Linked DNA regions of Homo sapiens. The protein of the gene in region 3 interacts with the protein of the main gene of each other region in a pairwise test. Each region holds a gene or a part of one and is shown on either strand. Other genes may lie near its edges.

Region 1 (7,878 bases), on a different chromosome or scaffold from region 3:
TCATTAAAAAGGGACTGGATGATTAATGGTGTAGGCATACTTTGGCACAGTGTGCCGCCATTAAAAAGAGTTCTATATGCTGATGTGCAATGATGCCCACAATGTTTTTTTTTTTTTTTTTTTTTTTTTTTTTTTGAGACGGAGTCTTGCTCTCTCTCCCAGGCTGGAGTCCAGTGGCGCGATCTCGGCTGACCACAAGCTCTGCCTCCCGGGTTCACGCCATTCTCCTGCCTCAGCCTCCGGAGTAGCTGGGACTACAGGCTCCCGCCACCACACCCGGCTAATTTTTTTGCATTTTTAGTAGAGACGGGGTTTCACCGTGTTAGCCAGGATGGTCTCGATCTCCTGACCTCGTGATCCGCCCGCCTTGGCCTCCCAAAGTGCTGGGATTACAGGCGTGAGCCATCGTGCCCGGCTGATGCCCACAATGTATTTTTAAGGATACAGAATAAGCTTCCACTTTTGTTTTAAATACTATGTCCTTATCTACAAAGATATATGAACAAGGATGTACCCAACAGTGGCCCTCTCTAGGGGCTGCATACCCAGCATATGCAGATCTTTTATATTCAGAATGAATAACACATGTCCCCTCTATCTCCACTTCCTCATTCGATGAGCATTTACCGAGTGCTAACCATGTGTATACTTTGGCTGGGCACTGGAGGTCTGGGGCCAGCTTCGTGGCTCCTGCCCTTATGGGGCCTGCACACTTACAGAGGGTTCAGACCTTACTTGGCCAAATACTCACAGAAATCAAGGTGGCATGAGCGGCTGAGGGAGCTCCCAGGAAGGAAGGGACCAGGATTTACAAGGGTGAAGCACCTGAGCCCCTCCCTCTCTAAAGCTTTTTCTGACTCTGCAGATGGAAATGATTTTCCCACTTTGAGTCACCCAAGCCCTGGATCAGTCTGCCCCTTAGCATGTTTTCTTTTCTTTTTTCTTTCTCTTTTTTTTTTTTTTTTTTTTTGAGACAGAGTCTCGCTCTGTTGCCCAGACTGGAGTGCAGTGGCACGATCTCGGCTGACTGCAACCCCCGCCTCCCGGGTTCAAGTGATTCTCCTGCCTCAGCCTCCCAAGTAGCTGGGATTACAGGCGCCTGCCATCGTGCCTGGCTGATTTTTGTATTTTTAGTAGAGACGGGGTTTCACTATGTTGGCCAGGCTGGTCTCGAACTCCTGACCTCAGGTGGTCTGCCCGCCTCCGCCTCCCAAAGTGCTGGGATTAAAGGCGTGAGCCACTGCGCCCAGCCCCCTTAGCATGGTTTCTACCCAGCATGTTTTCTACCCAAGGTCTATGTTCAGCTCTGCCTGCCTGCCACCAGCCTGGAAGCCCCTGAAGAACAAGGTATCTATACATGGGTGTCCCCTCCTCCTGACTGAAGATTGTGGAAGGAATGGATGAGAGAGTGGGGAATGCAAAGCTTGCCGGCTCACCGCCCCCCCAACTTCCAGCTCTAGGCTGCCCAGCTGCTCCAGGGCTCTGGGGTGCGACAGTGTTGGTGCTCATGACCCTGCTCACAAGAAGGCCCAGCCCATCTCCAGGGACCTCTCCTCTGACAAGGAGGAAGTTATGGGGGGAAGAGTTCCCAGCTTCCCCGCTAGAAGCAGCACCCGCAAACAGACCTCAACCCAGAACCTCAGGGCCAGAAGAGTGCTCAGCAGCTGGTGGACCTTTTGTGCTGAGGAGGAGGCTGAGGCTTAGCGCAGGTGTAGACTTGCTCAGGTCCACAGCCCAGGCCCCGAGCCCTTTGCTCTGGCCCTTTGGTCTGGTGGTAGAACACTGGGGAAGGCTGAATGGCGGGGAGGGATGTCAGTGTCAGGCCCCCATGCTCCCTCCATGTCCCTTCAAGCCTGGGGACACTCGCCTGCATGTGCACCCCTTGTCCTCCATCAGCCTTTTCCCCCTCCCAGCCTGGGGCCGCTTCCCTGCCCCCAACCCCATTCCTGAGATGCATGGGCCAGGGCATGAATGGTGGACACAGGCCTGAGACAGGCAGAGTGCCATGGCCTCGGGACAGAGTGGGCAGTGCTCACCAATGAAGTTTCCGAGGTAGAGTCCAGGAAGTACCTAGAGGAAGGACAGGCAAGGGTCAGTGGGGCAGGGGCTGCACCCCCTTCCACCCCCAGGGCAGCTGGGGGGCCCACAGCCCCTCTCTGTCCCATGAAGGGTATGGACCTCAGGGCTCAGGGAGCACTCTCTTCCCTTTTGTGGGCCCTGAGTCCTCTGTGAGAGGGGTCTGGGGCTCTGGGGAGGGTAGGCTAGGGGGCCAGTTAACCAACCGAGGGAACCAAGGGAGGCCAGCTTGGGTATGAGAGGGGAGAGGAGGAAGGCAGGTCTTAGGAGGAGAGGAGAGGAGAGAGGTAGACTTGCAGGGTGCAGGGATGGAAATTCTGGGGCTGGGGAGGCAGAAAGGCAATGACAGGCAGAGGCGGGACAGGATGGAGAAACAGCCCCGGAGAGAGCCGAGGAGTCAGCGACAAGGGAGAGGGACACATGCAGACGGAGAGCAGGACTCACTGGGAGACAGCCTGGGAGTGACAGCCACAGCAAGACAGCGAGAGACACACAGAGTCACGGAGAGAGGGCGGACACAGCGGGGACAGAGACGCAGGGTCAGAGAGGGGGAGACCCGACAGCCGCGGTCTCGAGTCACAGGGACACGGAGATGCCGCCGCACGGAGACCGGCGAGAACAGAAGGTCAGAGGCGGGCGGACCGAGCTGGTCAGCGCCGGGCCGCGGCGGCCGGGGCGGGGACCGGGGAGGCTGCGCGGGGCCCGCCCCCTACCTTGGTCATGCCATTGCCCATGATCCCGGGGGCGGCGGTCCGGGTGCACCCCCAGCTCGCCGCCCGGGAAGCGATCCGGTCACAGCTGCCCTGACGGCCCAGGCCCGACGCCTGCAGCCTGGCGGGGAACGGGGGGCCTGGCGTCCGCGGCCCTGCCCAGCCCTGCCCAGCCACCGCCACCGCCCGCCGACCCCCGGCCCGGGAGGGAAATGGTGGTGGAGCCGCCGCTGCCACCGCCGCCGCCGCAGGCTCCTCCTACCCCTTCGGTCATGTGGGGCCCCCGCCTCGGGTCGCGGCGGGGGGCCGGACAAAGCCCCAGTGTGCCGGGCCCACGGCCCGCGGGACAACGGCAGTTTGTTGGGGCCGCGTGGGGCCGCCACCTCCGGAGGTGGGGGCGGGGGCCTTACCCCACCCTGGCACCGGCAGGCGCGGGCGGATGGGGGGATGTCGCCTAGAGCCCCCCGGCCGGCCCACAAACTCCCGTCCCCCTTCCGGCTCTGCCTGGACGTCCCTGCGGGCCCCGGGGGAAAGCACCCAACTTCTCCCGCCTCGGCTTCTAGCAGAAACGTGACGGGGCTGGACTTTGATCGCCGAGGGCTCTCTGCTCTTCAGAGTCTGCTTGGAACGGGATAAGTGGGTAATTCCTTCCGATACATCCTCTCCACCCGTGCAGAGACACCCTACCAACCAGCCTTCCTCCTTTCCCATCCATTCTCCCACCCTCCTGTTCACTCATTCACTCGTCCATCTTCCCATCCATTCATCCATCCTCTCACTCCTTCCTTCCATCCATTTCGGCCCCTAGGAGGGATGGTGCCATCCAGGGAAGCTCTGCTGGGACCAGGCACAACTGCCATTAGGTGCCCCAAGAAATTACAGGTGAATGTTGGGAGAGGGGTTTGAGGGAGGGTTCCAGTCTGAAGGAGACTACATCAGGATGTATTAATAGCTAGAGGTCAGGGTCCTGGAAGGGGTCTGGAGACCAAGGTTTGAGGCCCTGTTCACCTCTGACCTGCTAGATGACCCTGGGAAAGTCCCCGTGACCCCCAGCTAACCCTATCTGTGTTTCTGAGGATGTTGAGGTGAGCCCTTCCTGGCTTCTAGGACCAAAGCTGGAGAATGTAAAATAATCAAGACACTTCCTATAGGACTGAAATAGAAGCAGCTGCACCAGCTTTGTTCCTTCAGCCATCACCCCCACCCCTCAATCTATAGTAGTAGGTGACTGGGGATTGTGGATAGAGAGCAGGACAGAGAGAATCCACAGAGCCCTTTGAAATACAGTGATTGGAGAAAAATAAAACTGTTTCTTCCTCCCTCAAGTTCATAGCATACATGGGGCTGCCCGTCTCAGCTCTCATAAAAGCCCAGAGTTCTCATAAATACCAAATTATTCAGTAAATACTTACTGAGCATCTAGTATATGATAGAGACTAGGGACACAGCAGTGGGTAGAGATTGTTCCTACCTTCATTAGCTAATGGTATAGACCAGCATTGTCCAAATGAAATATAATGCCAGCCACATGTGCAGCCACATTTAAAAAGTAGAAACAAGTTAATTGTTGATAATATTTTTATTTAACTCAATATATCCAAAATATCATTTCAACATATAGTCAGTATTTTAAAACTATAAATGAGATATTTTATATCCTTTTTAAATTGTATTAACTATTCAAAATCTGGTGTCTTTTACATTTACAGCACATCTCAATTCAGACAAGTCACATTCCAAATGCTTACTAGCCATATGCAGCTAGTAGCTACATATTAGACATCTCAGATCTAGGAGGGAAGGCAAACAAGATAGGCAAACAAATAAATTATTTACAAATGGTCCCAGTTTTCTATGAAGGAAACAAAGCAGACAGGGAGAACCTCTCTGAATAAGTGGCATTTGAGCTGAGAGGTGATATATAAGAAGGACCCAGCTGTTTAAAGAGTGGAAAGCCAGGCGCAGTGGCTCATGCCTGTAATCCCAACACATGGGGATGCTGAGGTGGGAGGATCAATTGAGCCCAGGAGTTTGAGACCAGCTTAAGCAATATACTAAAACCCCATCTCTAAAATAAATTTGGCTGGGTATGATGGCTCAGGTCTGTAATCCCAGAACTTTGGGAGGCCAAGGCAGGAGGACTGTGTGAGCCCAGGAGTTTGAGACCAGCCTGGGAAACATAGGGAGACCCTGCTTTTACAAAAAAAAAAAAAAAATTAGCCGGGACCTGTAGTCCAAGCTACTCAGGAAGCTGAAGTGGGAGGACCACTTGAGCCCAGGCGGAGGAGGATCACTTGAGCCCAGGCGGTGGAGGCTGCAGTGAGCCATGAGCGCACCACTGCACTCAAGCCTGGGTGACAGAGCGAGACCTTGTCTCAAAAAAATAAAAAATAACACACACGAAAAAGAAAAAGAGTGGAGAGAGTATTTCCAGCAGAAGGAACAGCATGGGCAAAAGCCCTATGATGGGAATAGCTTGGCCTCTGTAAAAAGCCAGTGGGACTGGAGTAGAGGGAGCTACAGGAGGTGTTAAGAGGACGGTTCAGGGCCGGAGCATGCAGGAGCACATATGGCCATGATTGGGAGTTAAAGTTTTCCTTCTCTTCTGTCGGATAAAAATCCAACAGGAAAATTTAACCTGGGAGGCCAGGTCATCTGATTTATTTAAGTCAAATACTTCGACCCCTCACTGACCCTTTCCTTTATGGGGGCCACTGCAGCAGCTCAGGTAAGAGGTGACAGTGACCTGGGATAGAGTGGGACCCGAGAAGCTGGAAAGAAGGGGATGGACTCAGCATATATGAATATTTTCACAGGGCAGCTGAAAGGACTTGCAGATTGACTGGATGTGGGGGGAAGGAAGGAATTTTAGGATGGCCCCCAGGCTTCCTGCCTTGAAAGTCACTATCTGTGTCACAGAAATGAAAGCAGGGGTGTTCACCAATTCAACACGTTTATTGGGCACTGAGCTATATGTAGGAAATTGTGCCAAAGATGTGCTGACTTAAGTTTCCCCAAATGCCCGACCCATGGATGCTGTAAAGAAATGCTGATGCTGGGCGTGGTGGCTCATGCCTGTAATCCCAGCACTTTGGGAGGCTGAAGCGGGAACATCGCTTGAGCCCAGGAGTTGGAGACCAGCCTGGGCAACATGGCGAAATTTCGTCTCTACAAACAAACAAACTAAAACAAAAAATTAGCCGGGTGTGGTGGCACGAACCTGTAGTCCCAGCTACTTGGAGGCCAAGGTGGGAGGATTGCTTGAGGTTGAGGCTGCAGTGACCTGTGATCACATCACTGTACTTCAGCTTGGATGACAGAGTGAGACCCTGTCAAAAAAAAAGACAAAAGAAAGAAAGAAAGAGAGAGAGAGAAAGAAAGAAAGAAAGAAAGAAAGAAAGAAAGAAAGAAAGAAAGAAAGAAAAAGGAAGGAAGGAAGAAAGAAAGAAAGAAAGAGAAAGAAAGAAAGAAAAAGAAAGAAAGGAAGGAAGGAAGGAAGGAAGGAAGGAAGAAAGAAAGAAAGAAAGAAAGAAAGAAAGAAAGAAAGAAAGAAAGAAAGAAAGAAAGAAAGAGAAAGAAAACACTGATAAACGAGCCTGAAGACTAGCTCCTTACCATGGCCCTGGCCTTAGCAGCTCTGCGATCCTAGGCGGGTGAGCCAATGTCCCTTAATTTACCCATAGAGGGGCAATTGTAACAGTCCTTTGTGTTCCCACTGAGTGCTAAGGGGAAAGATACAAATTACATGTAGGAAAGAATTCTTTCAAGTTAAAAGCCCATATGTGTTATTAGACCTAACATATTTAATATCTATGTACTGTTCAGCCTTTGGAAGTATTAGTTATTACAAAGCCCAATCTGTCTTAAATCATGAAATGACCATTTTACAAAACCAATAATAGGAAGATGCTAAAATGTGGGTCTCACCCTGTCATTCCCTTGCTTAAAGCCCTTTAGTGGATTACTGTGGTAGACAAAATAATGGTCCCCCCAAAGGTGTTTACACTCTATTTCCTTGTAACTGTGAATGTTATATTACATGGCAAAGGGTAGAATTAAGGCTGCAGATGGAATTAAAGTTGCTAATTAGCTGATCTTTTTTTTTTTTTTTTTTTTGAGACAAAGTCTCACTCTGTCGCCCAGGCTGGAGTGCAATGGTGCAATCTCGGCTCAGTGCAACCTCTGCTTCCCAGGTTCAAGCTATTCTCCTGCCTCAGCCTCAAGAGCAGCTGGGACTACAGGTGCCCACCCATGCCTGGCTAATTTTTGTATTTTTAGTAGAGAAGGGGTTTCACCGTGTTGGCCAGGCTGGTCCTGAACTCCTGACCTCAAGTGATCCACCCACCTTGGCCCCCCAAAATGCTGGGATTACAGGCGTGAGCCACCGCGCCCAGCCAGCTGATCTTGAGATGGGGAGATTATGATGGATTATTCAGAGGGGCCCAACATAATCACAAGTGTCATTATTAGTGAAAGAGGGAGGCAGGAGAGTAGGAATCAGAGGGGATGAGATGACGGAAGCAGAAGTCGGAGTGGTGTAATTGCTGGGTTTGCAGATCGAAGGGGGCCCACAGCCAAGGGATGCAAGTGGAAAAGGCAAGGAAACAGATTATCCTAGAGTTTACGAAAGAAACTCAACCCTGCCGTCACCTTCATTTTAGCCCAGTGAGACCCATTTCACATCTCTGACCTCAAGAACTCTAAGATACTACATTTGTGTTGTTTTAAGTCACTTTGTTTGTTGTGATTACAAGCAGCAACAGGAAATTCATACACTCACCAACACCTTTAGGAAAATGTCCAACCTGCTTAGCATGGCACACAAGGAGGCCTTGTGGGATGTGGTTTCTGCCACTGACTTTGAGCAAGTTTTTAAATTTCTCTGGGCCTCAGTTTCATCATCTATGAAATAGGGAGGAAAAAAAACCCTCTGTAGGTCTGTAGTAAGAATAAATGAGAGGACATGTTTCAAATACCTAGTAGAAAGACTGGAACACAGTACATTATTATTATTATTACCATTGGCATTACTATTATCATGGAACAGTTGACAGAGTAGGAACCCTTGTCTCTACTCCCTTCATTAGGGCTA
Region 2 (7,000 bases), on a different chromosome or scaffold from region 3:
ACAGAGGTTCCCAGCAATGCCAAGAGACATGCCCAAATGCCCAAGGGGACCAGGCTTGTGAGGACTCATGTGAATTGCCCTAGTGAGCTTCTTAAATGTCATGAAATTTTCAGAGGCACTGAAAGAGCTGCCAGATGTGTCTCTGGATTTGCATAGAGAAGTGAAGCATCATGAAAAAGTTTCTATAACTGAATTCTGAGTTTTCTTGTGAACTATGGGTCTCCAAGGGAGTCAAACTGAAGCTATAAATAATAGGTCACCTGAGGTAAAATCAGCAGCGAGAAGAGTCCTGGAAAAGCAGGGTCAGCTGAGTAGCCTGGGTTTTAGGGGAGTGGTGAGTAGTTCAATGAATAGGTTGTGGCTGCATGTGACCTTTTCCATTATGTTCTTCCCATACCCATGCCCCTCCTTCTATCCCTTTACATTCAAACACCCCTGTCTTGGCTGGTGTCTGCAGAACCACAGGCAGCCTTCCACATGGACCTACAGCCCAATGGTCTAGAAATTCCATGGGCTACAAATGGTAAATAGGATAGTATCAGTTGGTCAGTAGAGAAGAAGGATGGCCAGAGGAGTAGACAACAGATGGGAAGCCTATAGACCTATGAGCAGCATCCCTCGTCCATGCTTGAGCTTTTCACCCTTTGTGGGTCCCTAGAGGGATTAATTAGGAAGATGTATCCTAGGACAAGTCTAGACTGCCTGCTAAGCAAGGCAGTGCAGTAGGAACTAGGCACTTCAGATTTATGATGTTTATGTAAATGTTACACATTTTCAGTCACAATCAGGCATATCCAAGAGAAATTTTTATTTCACATTCATTTAAGTAGAACTTGCTGAAGACATGATGCTAGAATTCATGTTTAGATGAAACTTTTAGAAAAGGCATTGGGAGAGATATCTGCAGGGAGGTAGATATTTTCGAGCTTCATAGTCCACTACAAACCTGCACATATGGTCAGGCTCCTGCCTATAGCATACAGATGAAAACTATCAAGAAAAGGCTCAACTGAAAAAAAAAAAAAAAAACCACTCAGAATCCAGAATGTATCTAGGTGTGTATGCTTACCCAGTATTGGCATAAACATAAAAAGAATAAGAAATTCCTCCAAGGTACAATTAACCATTTATCATCTCCTTAGTCTAATCACGTAATGCCTAACACTTCTATGACACTCTCTAAGACTGCAAGTTTGGATATATTATCCCACTTAACTCTCAACTACTATGGAATTCTGCTAAAAAGTTATCTAGAAACATGACATTTCCCCTTGTTTAAATTTTCTCCTTTCTTCTGTTTAAGCTACTTTATTTTCTTCAGGGAGAATTTTAAAAATACCACCTTGAATCAAGAAGACAAAGAAACTAAATTGCTTATGATTGAAAGCCATACATTTACATTAATGGATTGATGGTCTTTCAACCTAACTAACTCACTATGATATTATGTTTGATCATTTTTCCCAGATAAGTGAAAGTCACCCAGTGGTGAACTGATTCTGTGCATTTATTGCTTCCTTTTCTCTCCAGTATGCCTCAGGAATTGGATCATTAGTACAGTGAAATAGCTGTAGAGTCTTGCTCTGTACATATTGCTGTACAGTCCAGTGAATCACTGTGAGATGCTTTTACTCTGTGCTCATTAAATGCTCCTTTCCAAAGAATCAGTAGTTTAGGACTGCCTGAGGCCAGTCTTCTCATTTAAGTCAGAAAATGGACATTGCTTTAGATCTGAAAAAAAGGAAATAAAAAATAAAATAGAAATAGGAAAAAATAATTCATGTCCCCAATGAACTTGGCATTTGCTAAGTTCTAGACTGCTGCATAATATAAATAATAGTTTTGCTTTGTTGTTGGTCCATGTGGCTGCAATTTTAATGGACATCAACATCTTAATATATTAAAATCAAATGAGATTTGATTATGAGGAAAGTTTATGCAGTCATTATGAATAAAAATGATTTAAGTGGAAAGTGCTAATGTTTATAATATAAATTTGCTAATTGTCCTTTTGTGGCAAATATCATTACTATAGTAGGCACTTATAGTTACATTATATGGTACATAAGCATTAGGAAATTTGATCTTAAAATAATATTTTAGCATTACATCTTTATTTTTCGAAACTACTAACATCCTTTATGTTGGGAAACATCAATGCTACTCTAAGTGTGTCAGCATTTGTAAATGCCTTGAAGATGAAAAATGCACTCATGGGCCAAGTAGAATCTTTCAAATCCCCTTTTAAAGGAAAAAATGGCTTTCACTAGCTTTTGAATTTGACTCACAGAACAACTTTTAAGATTTAACAATAAACTTGCCATAAAATATAACATCCGTGTTATCTCTAATACTAATGGCAATGAATGGGCTTTTGATTTGTGATCTGATCATCTCACATAAAGCGATTTTTAAATAATTCACAAAATAGTCTCCATTCTTCAGGTGTAAGAATGTCTTCTATGAGAAAAAATATGTGGGATCCAAAAACTTTATGGTTCTATAAAGACTGTATACACACAAAATGAGAGAAAAAATGTATACAACCACTCAAATATTCAGACATTTTGTGTGATGATTTGGTTTTTAATTCAGAGAGAAAAGGAGGGTTGAATAATTTTTGGTCTTGATTTATTGAAGCCACTGTCTCACACTCCCACCTGATTTTGAATGTGTAAATGTCTTGTATTTGCTATAGGTAGATAATAACCAATCAGTAATCAGGGTTAGGAGTTCCGGGTCCATTCTGTAGTGGACAACTATCATGCTATGTTGTTTATCTAACTCTTTGAGCTCTTTAAAGTAAAAAAAAAATCTCATTCTATTCTTAAGTAGTACTGGAAAATCATGCAAGAATGTCTATCCATCTAGAAAGAGTTCAGCACACAAGTACACTACAAATAGCATCATGCCCATGGGACACAAACTTATCTTATGGAGTGTATTTACATAGAAAATTTTCTGTCCCATCTCCATTTCCTTGTTGTCAATAAGTGTAAATTGCACTAAGGTGGCAGTAGTAAAGTCAATTACCTTCTTTATGGTCATGAAGATGAGATATAATCTCTTGGTCAATGTAAATTAATTTATCACAATTCATTTTAACAAATATATTTAATATATGTATTCATTCATTGAACACTTACTGATGCCATATTAGGTAACAAGCATAGTTCTAGGGAATAAGTATATAGAAATAAAGCTGCAATTGTGTTATTGTTCTCAAAAAACTTCAGTATACAGGTTAAGTACATTGACAGGGGAATATACAGGATTGAAAAGGGAAATGTAGGAGAGCTACTTGAATGAGGTGAGTCATCCAAAAAAAAGAAGATTCTCAAAGTGGGCTATGCCTGATCAACATTTGAAGTTGGAGAAAGAGTCATCTAAAAAAAGGAGCAGAGTATTGGTATTTAAGAGAAATAGAACAGTATGTGAAATGATTCAAGACATGGCAAACCAAAGGAAATTTTGTCTTAGTGTGATATTAGTGTGCAAAGGAGGGCAAGATGAGAAGACCTCATCGCAAAAGACTGCCTTCCTAATGAGTTTGGAGTTTATTCTAAAAGAAAAGGAGATAGCTGTATTAAAGAATTTTTTGGAGAAAGAATATGATCAGGTATGCTTTTAAGAGTTTCACCTCCGACATTATTATAAAGAATAAATTTGATAGGAGGTCATCACAAGATATTATGTGAGAAATAAGGATCTGTCTCAAGGCAGTGACATGATCATGGAGAGTGGAGAACATCTTATGAGAAGAGTTTGAAACCTTTAAGATGAAAGTAGCAAAGGGATGATCTAGGATCAATTATTTGTTTCAGACCTGGGTCATTGTGAAGAATCCTGGTGTTATTCACAATGTTAGGGAATATTTATCAGAGTAATTGTGTTGAGAAGTGTTGAGTAAAAATAGTTGTATATAAGATTATTGTGGGGCCAGGTACTGTGGCTCACACCTGTAATCCCAGCACTCTCTGAGGTTGAGGCAGGAGGACTGCTTGAGCCCAGGAGGTCGAGGCTGCAGGGAGCCATGATTGCACCACTGCACTCAAGCTTGGGCAACAGAGTGAGGCCCTGTCTCTAACAACAACAACAGCAACAACAACAACAACAAAAACAAAAAGATTACTATGGAATATACAATGACTTCTAGGTAATTTTAAATATAGAACCAGAGTTCAGGGGAGATAACTGAGATGGAAATGTGGATTTTGGAATCTTTGACGTGCAAGTCTGAGTATAATTATCCAGGGAGATTGTATACAGAGAAAAATAACAAAAAATCAATGACAAGCTGTAGAGAGCACTAACCATTAAATAATACACAGCAGAAGACCTAAAAGTACAAATTGAGAAATGGCTGGAGAAATAAGAGGGAAGCTAGGAAGTAATGACTGTCTGTGGAAGTCAAGTGAGGAAAAATTTTAAAATTCAGAAAGGGGTCAAAATATATAAGTACTATAGAAATGCATTGATAACAAGAACATACATTACAATAACCTCTTTAATTATGTTCAACCATAGGATGATAGGATGAGGACGGAAGCTGATAGAGAAGTAGGTGAGAAATAAAGAAGAAAAGGCTGAATGTGCATAATGCATCCCAGAATTTTTACAAGGTGTTAGGTAGGATGTGATTTTCAATGGAATATGTGAGGTGCTATTCTATTGGAGGTGCTAGAAATATGTCATCTCCAATATACATATTCCTGTGTCTCTTAAGTACCAAAGAAGCAAATCAGTTTTTTCTAGTGTATTAGACTCTCTGTTTGTAAATCAGCTGATCCCTGTAGCCATTCCTACATGTACAAGGCATTTCACTGAGAAGTGAAAATGTAGCCAATCAGCAAAGAATTTGGGCTGCACAATATCTGGCAATCAGTTTGAAAGACTTTTTTCACTGAGTTGATTAGTAGTTCTGGTCTAACACAAACCCATCCTTTATTGCCCTTCAGTTCACAATGACAGCAAAATCTGTTAGAGATAGTGTGTTTTGGGGGCATGTGAGGCAACATGAGTTTTGGACAAATGAGCTGTTTAAGTCCATTCCAGAAGTGGCTAAGTGGACTATGTGTGTTTTTTGTGGGTGTTAAGAAGATATTAAATGCAAAAAGAAGAGACCAGAAATATCACTGTATTACATTATTTATTTAACTTATTTATTTAATCTTTAGAAAGATTTTATGTCAGGAACTGCCCCCAGGTACTAGGTAGCCCAAGACCTCTAATACATGCAATAATAAACAAAACAGGCAAAAATATGTGCCCTAAATGGGCTTACATTTTAATACAGAGAGGGGAAACTACAATAAAAAAAGTAAAATATATTGTATGTTGGGTGGTGAAGACCTCTGGGGAAAGAAAAGTTAGGCAGGGAAAGGGTGCTAGAATTTTTATCTGGGTGATGGGGGGAAGGGAAAATGAAATATGAAATAGAATAACCTCATTAACAAGGTAATATTTAATTAAAGTTCTAAAATTATTGTGGGATTAAGCTGTGGAGACACCTGGAGAAAGAAAAAAGCAAAACAGTATGAAAGGGTGAGTGCCTGGCATCTTCTAGAAACAGAAGGATAAATATGGCTGGAGAGAGGTAAAAAAAGAAGAAAGTAGTGAGAGATAATATCATAGAAATAATGTGGAGAGAGACTCTAGACCATTGTAAGGTCTATATTGAGTGATTTTCAATAGGAAAAACAAATTCTGGAGTTCTAAGGAACATCTTAAAATCTTAAAATATATCATTTACCTGTTAGTCTATCGTTTCTTTTGAGGGTGGTACTTCTGCAAATCATCTCCCAGATCTTCTTGGCACCATCATAGAATACCTTTCTTCTCAGAGACTAGAGAAATTGACTATGCACTTCTCTGAGAGATTTTCAATAGGAAAAACAAATTCTGGAGTTCTAAGGAACATCTTAAAATCTTAAAATATATCATTTACCTGTTAGTCTATCCTTTCTTTTGAGGGTGGTACTTCTGCAAATCACCTCCCAGATCTTCTTGGTACTATCATAGAATACCTTTCTTCTTAGAGTCTAAGGAAATTGACTATGCACTTCTCTGAGAGTGAAGAGATAGTTTCAGGAGATACATTGAAGGCAGTCTTTGTGCCATTCAAAAAGGCTGATAGCAAGAACAACACAGAAATTTGAAAGAACCTTTTCCAGAACTCAAAGAGAAAGCAATGGATTGAAATCAGTTTCTGTATTTTGTTAGCAAAACATTCCCTAGGAAAAAGAAAGCTTTCACATGAGAATTTTTAATATATCTCAAAAATGTACTCTTTTGCAACTAAAATACAACACTATAAATAATATCTCCTCAAATGGAATATGCTTCTTTGGACAAAGGAAGAGGAGAAATGCTGAAGAAAATAAGCTCTGTGGATCTTCCACATAATATTTTTTTACCATTCGTATTATTGTGGTGGCTTTTAATTGCCTCCTTGAATATTCCTGAAGTGGTATTTTCAACTGGAGTTTATATATTAAACTGGTTCACGAAAGAGTAAAGAATAAGGACAGTTAGGTAAAAAGTATTTTGCACCACTAACTTAATCAATGGTGGCCTCACCTATTGTAGAACCAGTGTATAATTTTATATAGTATGCAACCACGGGTCTGGAAACCTGGGCTTTTATCCCGACTATGCTATTAACTACCACTTTAATACTCTAGATCTTCATTTTCTCACCTGTAAAATAAGCAGTTGGATGGACAATAACCACAACTTCCTTGTTAGGTGATCTATAAAAATCGGCTGCCATGGGTAGAGTAGTGTCCAGCTTCTCTAACAAGAACCATGCTTAGTAATCCTTTAGTGTTAATTTACCCAGAGATGCCACTTACACAGCATGGTACCCACTCCTCATTTTTCTCCCACAGCTATTATAGACCACAGTACTTCTCCCTAGCCAGAATGCGAGTCATAATCTTCTTTTTCCCCCCGATGGTGTCTTAGGCAACCATAAGCAAAATAATGGGAGATGGCACTC
Region 3 (7,091 bases):
GGGCCCACCACTTCCTGTGCAGCATAACCCTCCCCAGCCCATACCCACGACATAGAGGGGGGCCTCCGTGTGCTTGATGTTGCAGCTGTTGCCTGCAATGCAGGTGTAGCGGCCTGAGTCCTCAGGGGCCACGTCATGGATCACCAGGGAGCCATTCTGGAAGATGTGCATCCTGTCGGGGGAGAAGCCATAGTGCTGGCCAGCTCGCAGGGAGGGGGGCTGCAGGAGAGGAGGGACGGGTGTGGGAGAGAGGTGGCCCTACCTGGGTCCCAGCTTGGTGGGGTCCAGGATGCGGTCCTTGCCTTTCCACTGAATCAGCGGCTTGGGGTCCCCCTGGGCCTCGCACTGCAGTAGGGCTGTGTGGCCCTGGTACACAGTCGTACGCTCTGGTTCCACTTTGAAGGTGATAAAAACTGGAAGAAAAGAGACCAGCGAGGCGCAGGGAGGGGTAAGCCAAGGGGCTGGCAGGGTACACGGTGCTACCCCAGAGGGCCCTCCCAGCCCCAGGGCCCTGCCACGGTCGCACCTGCCACAGTGAGCTGGACATGGGCACGAATCTGGCCCTGCGGCCCGTTGGAGGCAATGCAAGTGTAGTTGCCAGCGTCATCTCGAGTCACCCGGGCAAAATGCAGGGTCCCAGCGTTGTCTGTCACCCACTCTGGGAGGCTGCTCCCATCTGCAGGGGTAACAAAGGGAAATTATGGGAAGGATCAGGGTTACACAGACAGCTGGCAATGCCTTCAGTCCCTCACCTCTACTCAAAAACACACCATCGCTCCTGACCACCCACAGGCAAAGTCCAAACTCCTGAGCCAAGTGTTAGAAGCCCCTCCGTTATTTACCCCTCTTCCAATTCTTCAGTCTCACCTCTTCCTCCTACTGCCCTGTGTGACATTCCACGTCTGCCAAACCGGACTCTGTTTGGGCCCAGATCGGCCCTGTTCCTACTCCGCTGCCCATCACTTCTCCCTCCTAGAGCCCATTCCCGCTCTTTACCATCCCAGGCTGTAGATCCATTTTAAGCCTCACCTCTCCCAGAAAGTTCCCCCAGACCTGAGCAGAGGGAGCCTACTTCCTCCTCAGAATCTACAACTGTACTCTCTCACTCTAGGTGGAAATGTCAAAATTGGTCCAACCTTTTAAAAAATAATTTGGCAACTCACATCAAGGGCTATAAAAATGTTCATACCCCCTTTCGTGCATAATTATCCCAATTCTGGGAATCTTTCCCAAAGGAAATAAACCTAAATCCAGAAAAAAACTTTGGCTTAAAGATGTTTATTGCAGCAATGAAAAAAAAGGGGGTGGGTGGGTGGCTGGTTAACAACCCAAATCTCCAACATTTAAGGAACAGTTAAGTAAATTACAGTGAATCCAATTGTTGAAATATTATTAGGATCATCAAAACAAATATTCATGAAGAGTGTATAAAGATGTGGGGAAATGCTTGACAATGGTAAGTAAAAAAGGGTATAAAATTACACCGTTACAAAAAAAATAAAAATAAATAATTTTAAAAAATATTTTTAAAAACTACATAGTTATCTGTATTGTCTAATTCTACAATAAGCATGTCTACAGGCATGCACCACCATGCCTGGCTAATTTTTAAATTTTTTGTACAGACAGGGTCTCCCTGTATTGCCCAGGTTGGTCTTGAACTCCTGGGCTCAAGCGATCCTCCCACCTCGGCCTCCCAAAGTGCTGGGATTACAGGCATGAGCTACCACACTCAGCCAATCATGTAAATTTAATAACTGAAACTATATATACAATAAAACTGCTAGGTAAAAAAAGAAAAACATATGCACAGAAAAAGAAGACATACACCCAAAGATGATAAACGGCAGGACTGTACATTTTTTCTCCCAATATTTTTTTTTTTTTTTTTGAGATGGAGTCTCGCTCTGCCACCCAGGCTGAAGTGCAGTGGCACAATCTCGGCTCACTGCCACCTCCGCCTCCTGGGTTCAAACAATTCTCCTACCTCAGCCTCCCGAGTAGCTGGCACTACAGATGCGTGCCGCCACCCCTGGCTAATTTTTTGTATTTTCAGTAGAGACGAGGTTTCACTACTCTATGTTAGCCAGGATGGTCTCTATCTCATGACCTCGTGATCCACCCACCTCAGCTTCCCACAGTGCTGGGATTACAGGCGTGAGCCACCACGCCCGGCCTCTTCCAGTATTTTGTAAAGGAGCCCATGTAACTTTTGTTTCTTTTTTCTTTTGAGTCAGAGTCTCACTCTGTCAGCCAGACTCTGGTGCAATGGCATGATCTCGGCCCACTGCAGCCTCCACCTCCTGGGTTCAAGCGATTCTCCTGCTTCAGCCTCCTAAGCAGCTGGGATTGCAAGCATGTGCCACCACGCCTGGCTAACTTTTGCATTTTTAGTAGAGATGGGGTTTCACCATGTTGGCCAGGCTGGTCTCAAACTCCTGGCCTCAAGTGACCCACCCATCTCGGCTTCCCAAAGTGTTGGGATTACAGGCGTGAGCCACTATGCACGGCCTCCATGTAATTTTTATGTTGGAAAAGATAAACTATTTTGGAAAAGGGGAAGAGAGGACTTTACAGCACTGTCTGAACCAATCCAATCACTTGTTGCCTTGAGTTGTCTTCCATGTTGTCCAAGGCTATAATCTGACCTCTTCTGTGTCTGGCTTTTTCCTTCCTAACTAAACTATACATCAGCCCTGCACTGCTTGTCTAATCTCCACATTTCCTGGCACAGTGCGGGGCACCCAGCAGCCCTCAGGTATGTATCTGATCAGTGAACTGCCTGCCTGCCCCTACCCTATGCCGGCACTGTACCCACCTGCCCGTTCCCACTTAATAGTGGGCTTCTCTCGGCCTGTGGCTGAACAGGGCACCGTGGCCTCCTTGTCAAACTCCATGCACTGCTGTGGCTGGGGTGGTGGTGTGAACTTGAGCTTTTCTGTTTCAGCAGAGGGTGGGTAGAAAGACGAGGAATTGGGGCCGCTGGAGAGGCCGTGGCCAGGCCTGCTGCTCCCTCCCCTTTCCTCTCCTGCCTAGCCAGGAAGGGTGCTCCCCCAAGACATGCTGGCTCACCCAGCACTTGGACACGGGCTTGCGCCTCGATGCTGCCGGCTGGGGTGCTGCTCATACAACGGTACCATGTCCCATCATACACCTCCACGCTGTTGATGCGCAAGGTCCCATTCTTGAAGACCTCGAACCGTGAGTCCTGCAGCACAGGTGAGAGGCCTCAGAGCCTGAACCCACACCCACCTCTCCCTGGAGGCTGCCTCCAGGGTAAGAGTGCTATGGAGGTGAGCACAGAAGAGGGCAAGTGGAGGGAAGGCCCCGCCCATCCACTAGCAACACTCTTCTTTCTCACCTCTGAGATGAGCATCTGGTTTCTGTACCAGACAACTGTAGGTTTTGGTGTGGCCTGGGTCAGGCAATCCAAGTAGCCGGGTTTGCCCTCCTCCAGCTGGCTGTCTTGGGGCTTCTTCAGCCAGGAGGGCACAGCTAGACAGACAGGAAGGAAACAGTGAAGGCTGCTTCACAGGTCTCCAAAACTAAAGGATCCATCTCCAAGAAATCCTACTACCATTCTAGGCCCTGAGTTCAGAAGCCCCATGCTCCTCAGATGGCAGGAGTTTCCCTTTACGGAAGACCCAGGTGCCAGCACCTTTTTTAAAATTTTTTTTCTTTTAAGACAGGTTCTCACTCTGTCACCCAGGCTGGAGTAGAGTGACACAATTATGGCTCACTACAGTCTCGAACTCATAGGCTCAAGTGATTTTTCCCACCTCAGCCTCCCAAATAGCTGGGACCACAGGCATGCACCACAATACTTGGCTAATTTTTTTATTTTCTGTAGTGATGGGGTCTTGCTATGTTGCCCAGGCTGGTCTCAAACTCCTGGCTTCAAGCCTCCCCAAGTGCTAAGATTACAGGCATGAGCCACCACGCCCGGCCACCAGCACCTTTTGAACATTATCTTAGTTAACTGTCACATTAATTAACTTAGTTAACATTATCTTAGTTATAAGCCCCTATGGTAGGCAGGGAGTGGTGGCTCACACCTGTAATCCCAGCACTTTGGGAGGCCGAGGCGGGAGGGCTGCTGTAAGACACTGCACTCTAGCCTAGGCAACAGAGTGAAACCCCCATCTCTAAAAAAACAAAAAAAACAAACCCCCCAAGGTATGTATTCCAACACGCACTTTACAGCTAAGAAAACAGATGTTCAAAGAAGTAATGGTGGCCAGGCACAGTGGCTCACGCCTGTAATCCCAGCACTTTAAGAGGCAAAGGCGGGCAGATCATTTGAGGTCAGGAGTTCAAAACCAGTCTGGCCAACATAGTGAAACCCCGTCTCTACTAAAAATACAAAAACATTGGCCGGGTGTGGTGGCGGGCACCTGTAATCCCAGCTACTGGGGAGGCTGAGGCACAAGAATCGCTTGAACCTGGGAGGTGGAGGTTGCAGTGAGCCGAGATCACGCCACTGCACTCCAGCCTGGGCGAAAGAGTGAGACTCCATCTCAAATAAAAGATAAAAAATAATAATAACAATAATAAAAAAAGAAGAAGTAATGGTGATTTGCTAATACCTAATAGTGACAGAATTTAAAACTCTGGTCTATATGACTCTGAAACCCTTGTTCTTCTTATTACACCATAAAATGCCAAGGCGCAGTCCTCAGAAATCTGTTCTGTTTTAGCAACACTCACTCATCCAGTCCACAACCTTCAATACAACATGAATGGTTGGTTCCCAAAACTACATCCTGATTCCTATAAATCCAATTGCCTACTGGCATTTCCAACTGGATATCCAACAGGCATCTCAAACTTTACGTGTGCTAAAGAGAACACCTGACTTCCCCCAAAACCTGCTCACTCATTTTCCCTATCTCAGTCAATAGAACTATCTAGTCAGTTAAGAAAGCCAAAAAGCTAGCCTTGTCTTCTCTCTATACCCCACCCCCATCACACTCGTTCTACCAAACCCTATCTACTGGGGCTCCTAAATATATCCTGAATTTGACCACCTCTCACCCCCACCGCTACTGCCTCTGTTCAAGCTCCTTCAGTATCTCCCCTAGACTATTATAGTCATCTACTTAGTATGGGTCTCCTTGTTTATACTCTTGGCCCTAACATTCTAGTCTCAAAACAGCCAGAGCGATCTTCTGAAAAATCAGTCTTCCACTCAAAACCCTGCAAGACCTTCCCATCCAATGTGGTGTGGTAGGCTGCTTGCAATGATAGTTATAAACAATCCTCCCATCCCTTTCAACTCTTTTCAATGTGATGTTGACACTTTCCCATCAAGAGGTAGAGTTTATTTCTTTTTGTGTGTGTGAGACAGGGTCTCATCCTGTTACCTAGGCTGGAGTGCAGTCACGCCACTATGGCTTACTGCAGCCTCAGCGTCCCAGGCTCAAGCAACCCTCTCACCTCAGCCTCCAAAGTGGCTAGGACCACAGGCGCGTACCACCAGGCCCAGCTAATTTTTTTTTTATTTTTAGTAGAGACGGGGTCTGGCCATGTGGTCCAGGCTGGTCTCAAACTCCTAGGCTCAAGCAGTCCTCCCACCTTGGCCTCCTAAAATACTGGGATTGCAGCGTGAGCCACTGAACTGGGTCATGGTGTATTTTTCTAGTCCCTGGAATCTGAGTGGCCTGTGACTTCCCTTGTCCAACAGAACACAGTGGTAGTACTGCAGCTTCCACTTTTGCCCTCTCGGAACCCAGCTGCCAGGTGAGGAAGCCTGGCTAGCCTACTGGAGATGCCATGTGGAGGAGAACTAAGGCACCCTGGTCAATAGCCCCAGTCAACTGCCAGACAGGTGAGTGTGGCCGCCAGGGACCAGGCCAGCTCACCCATCAGCTGACTGCAAACGTGTACACCCAGCCGATAGCACACCAGGTAGACGAGCGGGCCCACCTGAACCTGTCCACAGAATCATAAGCATGTCAACGGCTGTTGTTTGTTGTTTCAAGTCACTACGGTTTGGTTTTTTTTTTTTTTGAGTTGGAGTCTTGCTCTGTCACCCAGGCTGGAGTGCAGTGGCGCGATCTCTGTTCACTGCAACCTCCACCTCCCAGGTTCAAGCGATTCTCCTGCCTCAGCCTCCCAAGTAGCTGGGATTACAGGCATGTGCCACCATGCCTGGATAATTTTTTTTTTTGTATTTTTTATTTTATTTTGAGATAGAGTCTCGCTCTGTCGCCCAGGCTGGAGTGCAGTGGCGCAATCTCGGCTCACTGCAACCTCCGCCTCCTGAGTAGCTGGGATTACAGGCACATGCCACCACACCTGGCTAATTTTTGTATTTTTAGTAGAGACGGGGTTTCAGCACGTTGGTCAGGCTGGTCTCGAATTCCTGACCTCGTGATCCACCTGCCTCGGCCTCCCAAAGTGCTGGGATTACAAGGCGTGAGCCACTGCACCCAGCCATTTTTGTATTTTTAGTAGAGATGGGGTTTCACCATGTTGGCCAGGCTGGTCTCAAACTCCTGACCTCAAGTGATCCACCTGCCTCGGCCTCCCAAAGTGCCACCACGTTTTGAAGTGGTTTGCTATGTAGCAATGGATAACTGATGCCGAAGCCAAAGTCCTTACTATGCTTTTACAAGGCCTATGGGATTTAGTTTCCACCTCTCAGGCAACTTCAACCCCTCTCACCATCGTTTATTCAACTCAAGCCACACAGGCGACTACTGTTCCTCCAACATACAAGCCCATTTCCATCTCAGGGCCTATCACATGGCTGGCTCCCTTCTTAATTTAAATACCAACTCCAATGCACCTTTTACAGAAGTCTTCCCTAAACTCTCACTGGCCCTGCCCTTTCTCTATCACTTGCCCTATTTCATTGTTCTCCCTTGTTCTACTGGCACCTAAAATTATATTTGTTCATTTGATAGTTTTTCTTACTGGCTTTGTCCCCGCTGTTAGAATATGAACTCCACAAGGAGAGGGGCTTCTGCCTGCTTTGTTCACAGTTGCATCCAGTACTGGGAAGAGCTAGCACAAGGTGCTCGACAAATCTCTGTTGACTGAATGCATTCCCAGAGCTCTCCGTCTTCTGGGCTCTACCCTCTAACACC

What was found.
Region 1: the proteins of PTK7 (region 3) and DUSP15 interact in a two-hybrid assay, tested with the Homo sapiens proteins (one study listed by BioGRID and IntAct).
Region 2: the proteins of PTK7 (region 3) and PTPRR interact in a two-hybrid assay, tested with the Homo sapiens proteins (one study listed by BioGRID and IntAct).

The regions. Positions count from the first base shown.
Region 1 is NC_000020.11:31,867,528-31,875,405, forward strand, and holds the start of DUSP15 (dual specificity protein phosphatase 15), read right to left. Parts: upstream 3,001-7,878; 5' UTR 2,811-3,000; coding exon 2,790-2,810; intron 2,705-2,789; exon of another isoform or gene 2,283-2,704; intron 2,263-2,282; exon of another isoform or gene 2,179-2,262; intron 2,071-2,178; coding exon 2,037-2,070; intron 1,874-2,036; exon of another isoform or gene 1,626-1,873; intron 1-1,625. Other genes in the region: probable tubulin polyglutamylase TTLL9, read left to right, coding at 3,600-3,668. UniProt on the Homo sapiens protein: May dephosphorylate MAPK13, ATF2, ERBB3, PDGFRB and SNX6.
Region 2 is NC_000012.12:70,910,739-70,917,738, forward strand, and holds part of PTPRR (receptor-type tyrosine-protein phosphatase R isoform 1 precursor), read right to left. Parts: intron 1-7,000. UniProt on the Homo sapiens protein: Sequesters mitogen-activated protein kinases (MAPKs) such as MAPK1, MAPK3 and MAPK14 in the cytoplasm in an inactive form.
Region 3 is NC_000006.12:43,135,253-43,142,343, reverse strand, and holds part of PTK7 (inactive tyrosine-protein kinase 7 isoform a precursor), read right to left. Parts: intron 3,496-7,091; coding exon 3,362-3,495; intron 3,209-3,361; coding exon 3,073-3,208; intron 2,939-3,072; coding exon 2,819-2,938; intron 677-2,818; coding exon 527-676; intron 414-526; coding exon 263-413; intron 173-262; coding exon 45-172; intron 1-44. UniProt on the Homo sapiens protein: Inactive tyrosine kinase involved in Wnt signaling pathway. Component of both the non-canonical (also known as the Wnt/planar cell polarity signaling) and the canonical Wnt signaling pathway.